Linked DNA regions of Homo sapiens. The protein of the gene in region 2 purifies or fractionates together with the protein of the main gene of each other region. This does not show direct contact. Each region holds a gene or a part of one and is shown on either strand. Other genes may lie near its edges.

Evidence for each region.
Region 1: the proteins of TEX261 (region 2) and CD226 purify together in Homo sapiens (co-immunoprecipitation; one large-scale study listed by IntAct). This does not show direct contact.

What each region holds. Positions count from the first base shown.
Region 1 is NC_000018.10:69,856,414-69,861,524, reverse strand, and holds part of CD226 (CD226 antigen isoform a precursor), read left to right. Parts: 3' UTR 1-5,111.
Region 2 is NC_000002.12:70,991,148-70,996,714, reverse strand, and holds the start of TEX261 (protein TEX261), read left to right. Parts: upstream 1-1,841; 5' UTR 1,842-1,957; coding exon 1,958-2,027; intron 2,028-2,939; coding exon 2,940-3,019; intron 3,020-4,731; coding exon 4,732-4,885; intron 4,886-5,567.

The DNA.
Region 1 (5,111 bases), on a different chromosome or scaffold from region 2:
ATGGATAATACATTAAGAATCTATGCTTCCTTTGAATGCCATTAATATTTATGTTAAAGTAACCAATGAAAGGAAATTACTTTGTTATAATAAGATAGGAAGACTTGTTAATGGAGTACACAGTTTTGTCAGGGAAAGAACACATCTTATTGAACTATGATGACTATGCATTGACTATATTATTATAAGAGATACCTTCAAACTTTATTTAAAGAACTTTAGGTATAATATGTTGAGAAAATAAAATAGAAATTTCATTTACTTGTAATCATGCTTAAAATGGGAGGCAGGTAGGTGAAGATATAATTTTTAGTAAAAACTCCAATTTATGTTTTAAGTAATTCAGTGTATTACTAAAATACTATATATATAAACTTAAAATACATGGGTTATCAATTTAAAAGACAAAGTAAGTAAAAATACTTTTAGTAGGCATTCGTGGATTGTGAACATCCAAGTTATATTGGTTTGTATAGAATGGCATTAAGTAAAAATTACAGCTGTATAACAGTAGTTTTCTAAATTGAGAGAGTCCACATTGTAATTAGAGATCACTGTGACCAAAATGCTTCTCCTTGATTTATAATGATGTACTGTATTTTGTACTGCTTATATGAAATTTCAGCAAGATTGACGATATTATAAAGATGCTTATAAAGTGTAAGTGGAGACGCTAAATTGTGAGTACAAAGTTTCTTTTTCACAACAGTGATAAGAAAATATCTTTAAAAAATATAAGACAATATAAACATGTCATCATTAGTTTAGCTACTATTAAAATGTAACATCTAGAAAGTACTGATCTCCACCTTCAGACTTCTGTATAAGTATATTTTTTCACTGATCTGTTCATTAGAGTTCTTCCAGCCAAGACTCTGGGCTCTTAAAACATGTATCTGAAAACTAAAAACAAGTTAATTTTTTTAAAAGCTTCTCTATTTCTAGTGATTCAATAGGTAGAAAAATAGCTTCTAGAATTAACTGCAATGCTTTCTAAGGAAATTTTATAAATCCTCAAGGTCGGTTTACACATATTTTTCCAGATTCAGAGCACTAACTATCTTGTAAGATGTAAGAAAAGGTCCATTTGGAAGTATGAGTAATAAATGTCTGGGATAATTCTGGTTTATTTCGTATTATCCTTGTTAGAATAAGTTATATGGTCAACCTGTTCAGAACACTTTTTCTAGTGTTAGTGTGTACTTTTGGATTTTTGGTTCTTGTAGGGTATAGAAATATTTTCCTTTGTCTTGTATTCTGTTGTTTTGAATGAATAAAACACAATGTTTCACGATCACTACTTTCATTTGCCATGGAGAAATAGCAGGGAAAAATTTCTACAGAATAAAATTAACTGATGAATTACATGCAGAAAAAATTCAAATCAATGATACATTGTAATTTTTATCTCAATGCAATGTTCTTTGTATTTTATTTTATTATTATTTTTTTGAGACGGAGTTTCACTTTTGTTGCCCGGGCTGGAGTGCAATGGCACAATCTCGGCTCACCACAACCTCTGCCTCCCGGATTCAAGTGATTCTCCTGCCTCAGCCTCCTGAATAGCTGGGATTACAGGCATATGCCAACATGCCTGGCTAATTTTGTATTTTTAGTGGAGACGGGGTTTCTCCACGTTGGTCAGACTTGTCTTGAACTCTGGACCTCAGGTGATCCACCTGCCTCAGCCTCCTAAATTGCTGGGATTACAGGCATGAGCGACCACTCCTGGCCTTGTTCTTTGTATTTTATAAGTGCATGTAGTGCAAAGGGTCAAAGGGCTTTACAGGTTTTTTGTTTGTTTGTTTTTGTTTTTCCCGAAACATAGTAGTCCCTTGCCCTTCCTCATTTTTGTTACCTTGAGACAACAAATTTTACTACTTCTAACTCATTATTTTATTTATGTTCACTTTTCTGAATAGCATGCTTATGACACTAATACTTTTTTTTTCAATTTTAGACATTCATTATTCATTTAGATGTCTTTCTCTCCCCAAACTCACCACATAAAATACTCTTCTCATGTCTCTTTCAGAAATATTTGTATTAAAATATGATTATATCAATATTTGGCATTTATTTCTTATGACCTTGCCAGTACTCTTAGTTAAACTACATGGTAAAAATGATTTTGCTTTCCCTCCTACATAACTTTTTTTCCACCTAGAGCTAATAATTGTCATTCTGGGGACTGACTTTTTCTGTATTTACCATAAATTGACCTGAAACTCCCCTGTGATGCAGCAGGAATTCTACCAACGTCAACTTCCTTAGAAAGACTCCATTAGAAGCTTGACTTGGGGCTAGAAGGAGAGGCACACAACTGCCATCCTGGTGTCTCCCTTCATCCAGAAAAAGGGGGAGGAATACATGAAACCTAGAATCCACTCTAAAACATTTTCCAGAACAAAAGGACATGTGTTTCCGTGTTGTAAATGTTTAACGAGTGCCCATAACAAGGAATAATAAGTCTATTATGTTTGCTTTTGTGTCTGTAAAAGTTGGGGGTATTGGTTGTAAGCACGAAAACAGATACTGACTGTTGAAGAAAAAAAAAAATACGAGGTCAGGAGTTTGAGACCAACTTGGCCAATATGGTGAAACCCTGTCTTAGTAAAAATAGAAAAATTAGCCAGGCCTGGTGGCACGCACCTGTAGTCCCAGCTACTTGGGAGGCTGAGGCAGAAGAATCGCTTGAACCCGGGAGGCAGAGGTTGCAGTGAGCCAAGATCGCACCACTGCACTCCACCCTGGGCAACAGAGCGAGACTCCGTCTCAAAAAAAAAAAAAAAAAAAAAAAAAAAAAGTTAAGTATTTGAACATAGGGGTGGCTCATAGAATTCCCAGGACACCCGATGGAGTAGGCTTGCAAAACACAACATGTGGCAACTCCAGTGGGAAACGAGGCAGGAAACACTCGTTTCCTGCAGAAAGCAACAATTTGGGCTTCGATACCCTCCCTAGAACACAGGGCAGTGAATCTGAGCAGCATCAGTACCCCACGTTCGGATGAGTCCTGAGCCCCTATTTTTATTCACTGACTTATTCCAAAATCAGTGTCTCTTAAATATATCTGGAAGGCAGCAGCTTGTATCTCCCCCTTCAGCTTCCATAGTGGCAGTCAGGGTACAACTTACTTTCCAAACAGAACACACTGCGACATTCCCTCCAGGCTCGTTGAAGAACTTCAACTGACAAATGTCCCTCCTCGACCAGATGATAGTTTTCTTAAAGGCAGGGTTTAATATACCCTTTTATAAATGTTTCAAGGCCCTGTGTAATACCTGAGTTTATTCCAGATGTAACTAAATATATCCAAGATTGTTTTAAAATAAATTGCTGAAAAAACAAATAAATACAGTTAGTATCTATATCAATATTCTCAGTTGGCAGTTTTGCAATAATGGCCGATAGTTCATTTTTAGTAACACTATTGACATTGCATTTGGATATTAGGGTTTACTAATCATCCGCATGTATACATTGCATATTTTTCTAGACTTTAACTTTATTCAAATCTATTGATTTTTAAACCTGCAACTTATGTCTAGACACAGGTATACCTTTACAAGAACTACCATTTTTTTTGGTAACATACTACCTCCAAAATTTCAAGTAAGAAGTTGATTTTTGTCCATTTTTAAATGGAAAACTTGTAATCAAAATGCCACAAAATTATACTGTGTATCATTTGACCTATAGAAACCAATATTATTACAGGAAGAAAGCAGAGCCAATCTTCTACCTGTGGTCAAATAAGTGGAGGCCCTTTCTAGACTAAGTTCTCATGAGTTTAAAATACCAAGCATAAGTTCTCCAAATTCCTGAAAAGGAAGCCTTGTGTTGTATTGCCCAGCCATATTTGTAAGACATAAAAATAAAACTTGAGAAGAAGCTATGATAACTTACTTTCTTCATTCTTCAAAATTTACATAATCTCAACTGATTTTATGTTTTTATGAAAATGCATTCTTAAGATATATCCTTATTCAATCATGTATTCATTACATCCTTTATGCCAGGTATCCAAAAGTACTTACAGTGACTAAGACCATTATTCTTTGATCAGCTGCCTGAGTAAGACTTTGAGCTCTCCAATATACTCTCAGTGATACTAAGTTTTCTGAGTAACAGCTTTGGATGTGGCTTCAGTTGAGCTGATTTATCCCACACTTTATTTTTATCGTATAATGGTCCTCAGAAGCAAATTTTGATTTTAGCTCACATAAAAAATGTACAAAGAAATGTAATGGCTCAGTAGCTTCTAGAGATAGAGATTACTCTTCTAACCTTTCTGTAATTTTGTATGTCTATTTTATAATTCTTTCAATGTCTAATGAATAGCTATCTTTTTTTGAGACGGAGTCTCGCTCTGTCGCCCAGGCTGGAGTGCAGTGGTGCGACCTCGGCTCACCGCAAGCTGCGTCTTCCAGGTTCACGCCATTCTCCTGCCTCAGCCTCCCGAGTAGCTGGGACTTCAGGCGCCCACCACCATGCCCAGCTAATTTTTTTGTATTTTTAGTAGAGACGGGGTTTCACCGTGTTAGCCAGGGTGGTCTCGATCTCCTGACCTCGTGATCCGCCCGCCTCGGCCTCCCAACGTGCTGGGATTACAGGAGTGAGCCACCGCGCCCGGCCTCCTTAGTTTCTTAAGGTGGAAGCCTAGATTATTGATTTTATATGTTGTTTTCTTTTCCAATAGTGGCACTTAATGCTATAAATTTCACTTTGTTCCACAAGTTTTGGTAAGCTCTATTTTTATTTTCATTTAGTCCAAAATATTTTAAAATTTCTTTTGATATTTCTTCTTTGAGCCATGAATTATTTACAATGTGTTGTTTAATCTCTATATATTTTGGGATTTTTCTACTTTATATCTCTTACAGATTTCTAACTTAATTTCATCATGTTTTAAAAACATTCTTTGTATAATTTCTATTCTTTTAAATTTTTCAGGTGTATTTTATGGCCCAGAATATGGTCTATCTTGTAGAATGTTTCATGTGATCTTAAGAAGAATGTTCATTCTGCTGTTGAGTGTAATATTCTACAAATGTCCATTAGATTAAACTGATTGATACCACCGTTCAGATTATCTATATCCTTTCTGA
Region 2 (5,567 bases):
CTCAAGTAATCCTCCTGCCTCAGCCCAGAGTAACTGCGACTACAGGTACGCACCACCATGCCTGGCCATTTTAAAATTTTTCTTTGCCCAGGCTGGTCTTGAACTCCTGGCCTCAAGTGATCCTCCTACCTCAGCCTCCCAAAGTACTGGGATTACAGGCATGAGCCACTGTGCCCAGCCTGCTTTGTAATCTTTTTTTTTTTTTTTTTCTTGAGACGGAGTCTCGCTCTGTCGCCCAGGCTGGAGTGCAGTGGCGCAATCTCGGCTCACTGCAACTTCTGCCTCCCGGGTTCACGCTCTTCTCCTGCCTCAGTTTCTTGAGTAGCTGGGACTACAGGCGCCCGCCACCAAGCCCGGCTAATTTTTTGTATTTTTAGTAGAGACTGGGTTTCACCGTGTTAGCCAGGATGGGCTTTGTAATCTTATGTATTTTGTTGGGGGGAGGGGGAAGCTATGCATAACATAAAATTGACCGTTTTAACCATTTTACAATTCTGTAACACTGTATACAATTCAGTGACATTAAGCACATTCACACTGTTGTGATGCCATCAGCACCATCCATCTTCCCAAACTGAAACCCTGTATCCATTAAAAAGTAACTCCCCATTCTTTGTCCCCCAGACCCTGGCAAGCACCATTTAACTTTCTGCCCATGATTTTGACTACTCTGGGTACCTCATATGAGGGGAATCATACAATGTGTGTCCTTCCCTATTTGGCTTATTTCACTTAGCATCATGCCTTCAAGGTTCATTGATGTTGTAGCATGTGTCAGAATTTCACTTCATTTTAAGGCTAGATAATATTCCATTGTATGTTTATAGCACTTTATGTCTATCTTTTCGTCAACCGATGGACATTTGGGTTGCTTCCCTCTTCTGACCATTGTGAATAATGCTATGAATATTGGTATACAAATGTCTCTGCTTTCTCAGTTCTTTTGGGTATATACCCAGAAGTAGAATTGCTAAATCATACGGTAATTGTTTTTTTTAGGAATACGTATTTTTATGCAGGAAAAATATGATTCTGAAATAAGCCTACTAGACTCTTGTTCTACATACTTTATTTTGCATGCCTGTCTCCGCCACTAGATGGGAGACTTGTTGACAAGGACTAACCGGTTCCAGGTGCCCCTCAGGAACCCTCCCAGAGGTGTAGTAAATGCATCCAGCGCCTAGCGGACGCCCTGCGTGCCCGGCAAGGGGTGAGGTGCAGGCGATACAAAGGTGCAGAATGTACCCCAAAAGAACAGCCTAGAGGGGAATTAGGCCGGAGGATGACCGATTAAAATCACCCCAACTCCTGATTGTGCCGCTTCCTAGGTGCATGACCCAGGGCAACTTCCTTTGGCCCCGGCTTCCCCGTCTATAAAATGATTTACATTATCTGCTCAAATTTCCGACAAGAACACACCTCGCCTTTATCACAGAGCGTGGCACATATTAGGAATTCAATAATTTTGTCCCTATCACCTGCGATAGCAAGAGACAGACTTGTCCGCAACCTGCCGGGAGGCAGGTTCTGGGGAGGTTGCTGGGGCGCGGTCGGGCGGCCCTGTCCGGCCCTGGACCACCTCCAGGCTGGTACGGGAGTGCACAGGGAGGGACTGGAGGCTGCACTCCGAGCCCCAGTATGGGCGCTTGGTCGTCTCCGCCCCTGGGCACCGTCCCGCCTCCCTCTGGCTGCAGCGGTCTGCATTCATTCCCCTCAGTGGAGCGGGGGATCCTGGCGGGGCAGCGGCGGTTGGCCCTCCTCTCCGGCGGGCGGCGCTAGCGCGAGCCTGGCCCCGGGCAGCGCTAGGGCCGGGCTCCTCTCGGCGGCGGCGCACCGTCGTCCTGTCGTCCGCGGGGCGGGGACGCGGCGGCGGCGGCGGCGGTGGCGGCTGTGTGTCGCCGGAGCCGAAGCGCGCAGGCCCGTCCCGGTGGCCGGGGAGCGGGCGGGTGGGGGCGCCATGTGGTTCATGTACCTGCTGAGCTGGCTGTCGCTCTTCATCCAGGTGGCCTTCATCACGCTGGCTGTCGGTGAGACTGCACGACCCCGGCCCGCGCGGGCTCCCGCCCCGGCATCGGTGCTCGTTGGGGGTCGCATCGCGGGGGTTTCGGAGCCACTCGGGGGACCACTGCCCGGCGCTCCCGGCCTTCGCCGCCCCAACCCCTTCCCGCCTGATCCTGCCCCTCCTGTCGAGCCTGGCAGCCCGGCCTGACCGTGGCTCCTTCCAGGTGTCACAGAGTCCGCTCCGGCACTGCCCGAGAAAGGGTGACTCGAGTGCCGCCCCCGCGTCTGCGGACCGCTAACCGCTGCGGCTCCCACTCTTCGCGGGCCTGCCGCGCGGAACTTTTCCCCAACGCCTACCGCCGCCTTTGCGCCTCTGGCCCTTCATGCTCCCTGCTCTCTCCACCTTTGACACTTCTCCTCTGGCTGGTTCCCATTCGGCCTCAGTTGAGATGTCATCTTTTCCGGGAAGTCCACAGGGGTTGATGGTCCAGCAGTGCCCTGTCCTTTCCCTAAAGTAGCATTTCTCACACTAAACTCGTCTGTCTCTCCCTACTGTTCCCCTTCCCTTTCCCAAGCTGGGTCAGGGAAGGACCCTTGTCTGTCTTTTTCAGCTGTATTCTCAGCCCAGGGACCTGGCTCATGCCAAGTGCCCAGCAGGTGTTTATTGAATACGTGAAATTCCGTTTTCTGAGCCAGAGGTTATCATTGTACTGTGGCATCAAATGCAGACTTTCGTTGATTTTTATGAGATTTGTCCTTAGTTGCCCTAAGAAAGTTTTACTTCTCCAGACTTGGAAGGGCAACACATGGGATGTTTGGTTTGTTCTTGACCTTCTGGGGTCCATGAAGGGTGGATGGGGACTGGGCTGCAGAGAGAGGGGTGACCAGGATGGTGGGAGTGACCCTGGCTGATAGTCTCCCTGCCTCCCACCCTGCAGCGGCTGGACTCTATTACCTGGCAGAACTGATAGAAGAATACACAGTGGCCACCAGCAGGATCATAAAATACATGATCTGGGTAAGTGGCATCTTTCTCCAGGAGTCCTCCTCACTCTTTTGCCCTGCCTCAAAAGCAGGAAGTGGGGAGAGTTTGGCATGGATGATGAGGCCTGTGTCTCTGCTGTTTCCTGAGCATACACTCTTACCTCCTTGCCCTGAACGCTGTCTTTTGGGTCTGCACTCCTGGGCCCAGATCTTCCCTGGCCGCCTTCCCCAAGTGGCATTGTTTCACTGCAGGCCTTGTGCTCTAGTCCTTAAGGTGACAGCGAAGTGTACTTCTCTGTTGACAAGACCGTAGATTTGACTTTGCTTAGCTCTCTCCCGCTGTCTTTAGCCCTTTGCTCTGCTCACAGCATTTAAAACTTAGAGGAGCCATAAGACAGTTTTGCATATATGTTCATTGCCATCTTTCTAATCGGATCAAGTGATTTGTCCTAAGATCGGCACAGCTTCGCTGCCCTCGCCCTTCCCTGGTCTCATGGGAGGCTTCTCTTACTGAAGACACAGTCCTTGCCACTGATATCAAAGCCATAGGGGTGACTGCTGGTGGACAGACTTCCTTCAGCTGCAGGAAAGGCTGGGGGTAGGGGTGCCATTGGAGAGAAAGCGTCCACAGCCCCTCAAGTCGCCTGGTGTCAGCAGCCATGTGCACTCTGGGCATGGCTGAGGTTGGGAGTTCACAGTGGAGGCAAGACTATAGCCCTCAGCTCTGGTCCAGAGGCCCAGCTTGTGGGTGTTGGCACAGTAATTAGCCCTTCATTCAGCCAACTGTCATTTGCTAAGCACTGACAACTGTAGGTACTTATCAGTAGTGTTTTTCAAACTGTAGGCATGATTCATTATTTGGCTGTATAGTAGGTCACAATCAGCATTTTTTAAAAAAAGGAACATAAATAGAATTGAAATTTGAGCTTTGAATCATATATATGTATATATGTGTTGGGGTCACAGTGTAAAATGTTTTTCTTTTTCTTTTTTTTTTTTTGAGATGGAGTTTCGCTCTTATTACCCAGGCTGGAGTGCAGTGGCACAATCTCAGCTCACCGCAACCTCTGCCTCCTGGGTTCAAGCGATTCTCCTGCCTCAGCCTCCCGAGTAGCTGGGATTATAGGCATGTGCCACCATGCCTGGCTAATTTTGTATTTTTAGTAGAGATGGGGTTTCTCCATGTTGGTCAGGCTGGTCACAAACTCCCAACCTCAGGTGATCTGCCTGCCTTGGCCTCCCAAAGTGTTGGGATTCCAGGCGTGAGCCACCTCGCCTGGCAGATGTTTTTCTTACTGTGGGTTGCTGTCAAAAAGTTTGAGAAATGGGCTGGGTGCGGTGGCTCACACCTGTAATCCCAGCACTTTGGGAGGCCATCAGAAGTTTGAGACCAGCCTGGCCAACATGGCAAAACCCTGTCTCTACTAAAGACACAAAAATTAGCTGGGCGTGGTTGTGCATGCCTGTAGTCCCAACTACTCAGGAGGCTGAGGCAAGAGAATTGCTTGAATCCAGGAGATCGCGCCACTGCACTCCAGCCTGGATGACAGAGTGAGACTCCGTCTCAAAAAAAAAAAAAAAAATGTTGCCTTTTGGGAGCAGAGAACCTAGCTGGGGAGGCCAGACCTGTGAAATGAGGAGATTGAAGCATGAACCTAGTGCTGCCCAGAGCGGGCTGGGGGTTGGTGAGTCCAGGAACGTTGCCTGGAAGAAGCGCCCTGCACTGTCTGCCTCTGGTTGTTTCAGTTCTCCACCGCTGTACTGATTGGCCTCTACGTCTTTGAGCGCTTCCCCACCAGCATGATTGGAGTGGGCCTATTCACCAACCTCGTCTACTTTGGCCTCCTCCAGACCTTCCCCTTCATCATGCTGACCTCGCCTAACTTCATCCTGTCGTGTGGTGAGAGGGGACAGAGTTGGGGAGGCAGCTGATGTGGTTGGGTGTGCCCATCTCCATCCTGGGCACTAAAGGGGATACAGAAAAAGGAAGCCAGCTGTTGAAGTCCTCCAGGAAGCCAGGCTAGTTGGGAAGATGCGGTTCTTACTGCTGAGGACTCTAGAGCCCACCTTGGCTCTAGTGAATAGAATTTGTTGGGGCTGGGGACTCAGACAGGGAGGGCTTTCCCAGAGAGGTAAGTTTGAAGGAGAGTTTGGGAAAGAAGAGGTTGTGGATTGGCTGAGGCAGGGCCCCCAACTGAGCAGTTCCAGCCTCAAAAAAACCACTTGGCCAGAAAAAGCCCAAAGCCCTTCCGGTAGGCAGGCAGCTGTCCGTCCAGTCCTCTGACCCAAAGTCATTGTTAGGACTGGAGCCTCATGGGGCTGTGAGCACCTTGCAGACTCTGGCCTGGTGTGAATGCCTCCTGGGGGCTGCAGCTTCTCATCTCATTCTCACTGGCTGCCGCTGCCTCGGGCTTGAGCCTGGATGTGGAGGACCCAGTCTTCTTGGCGTTGCCCTGCCACCACTTTCTGACCCTGGGGAATCATTGGCCCTCTCTGGGCCTTAGCTTCTCCATCTATTCAGAGAGGATGTTTCTGAAAGAACTATTGGGAGACTCAGTGGGCATATAGTAGGTGCATATAGG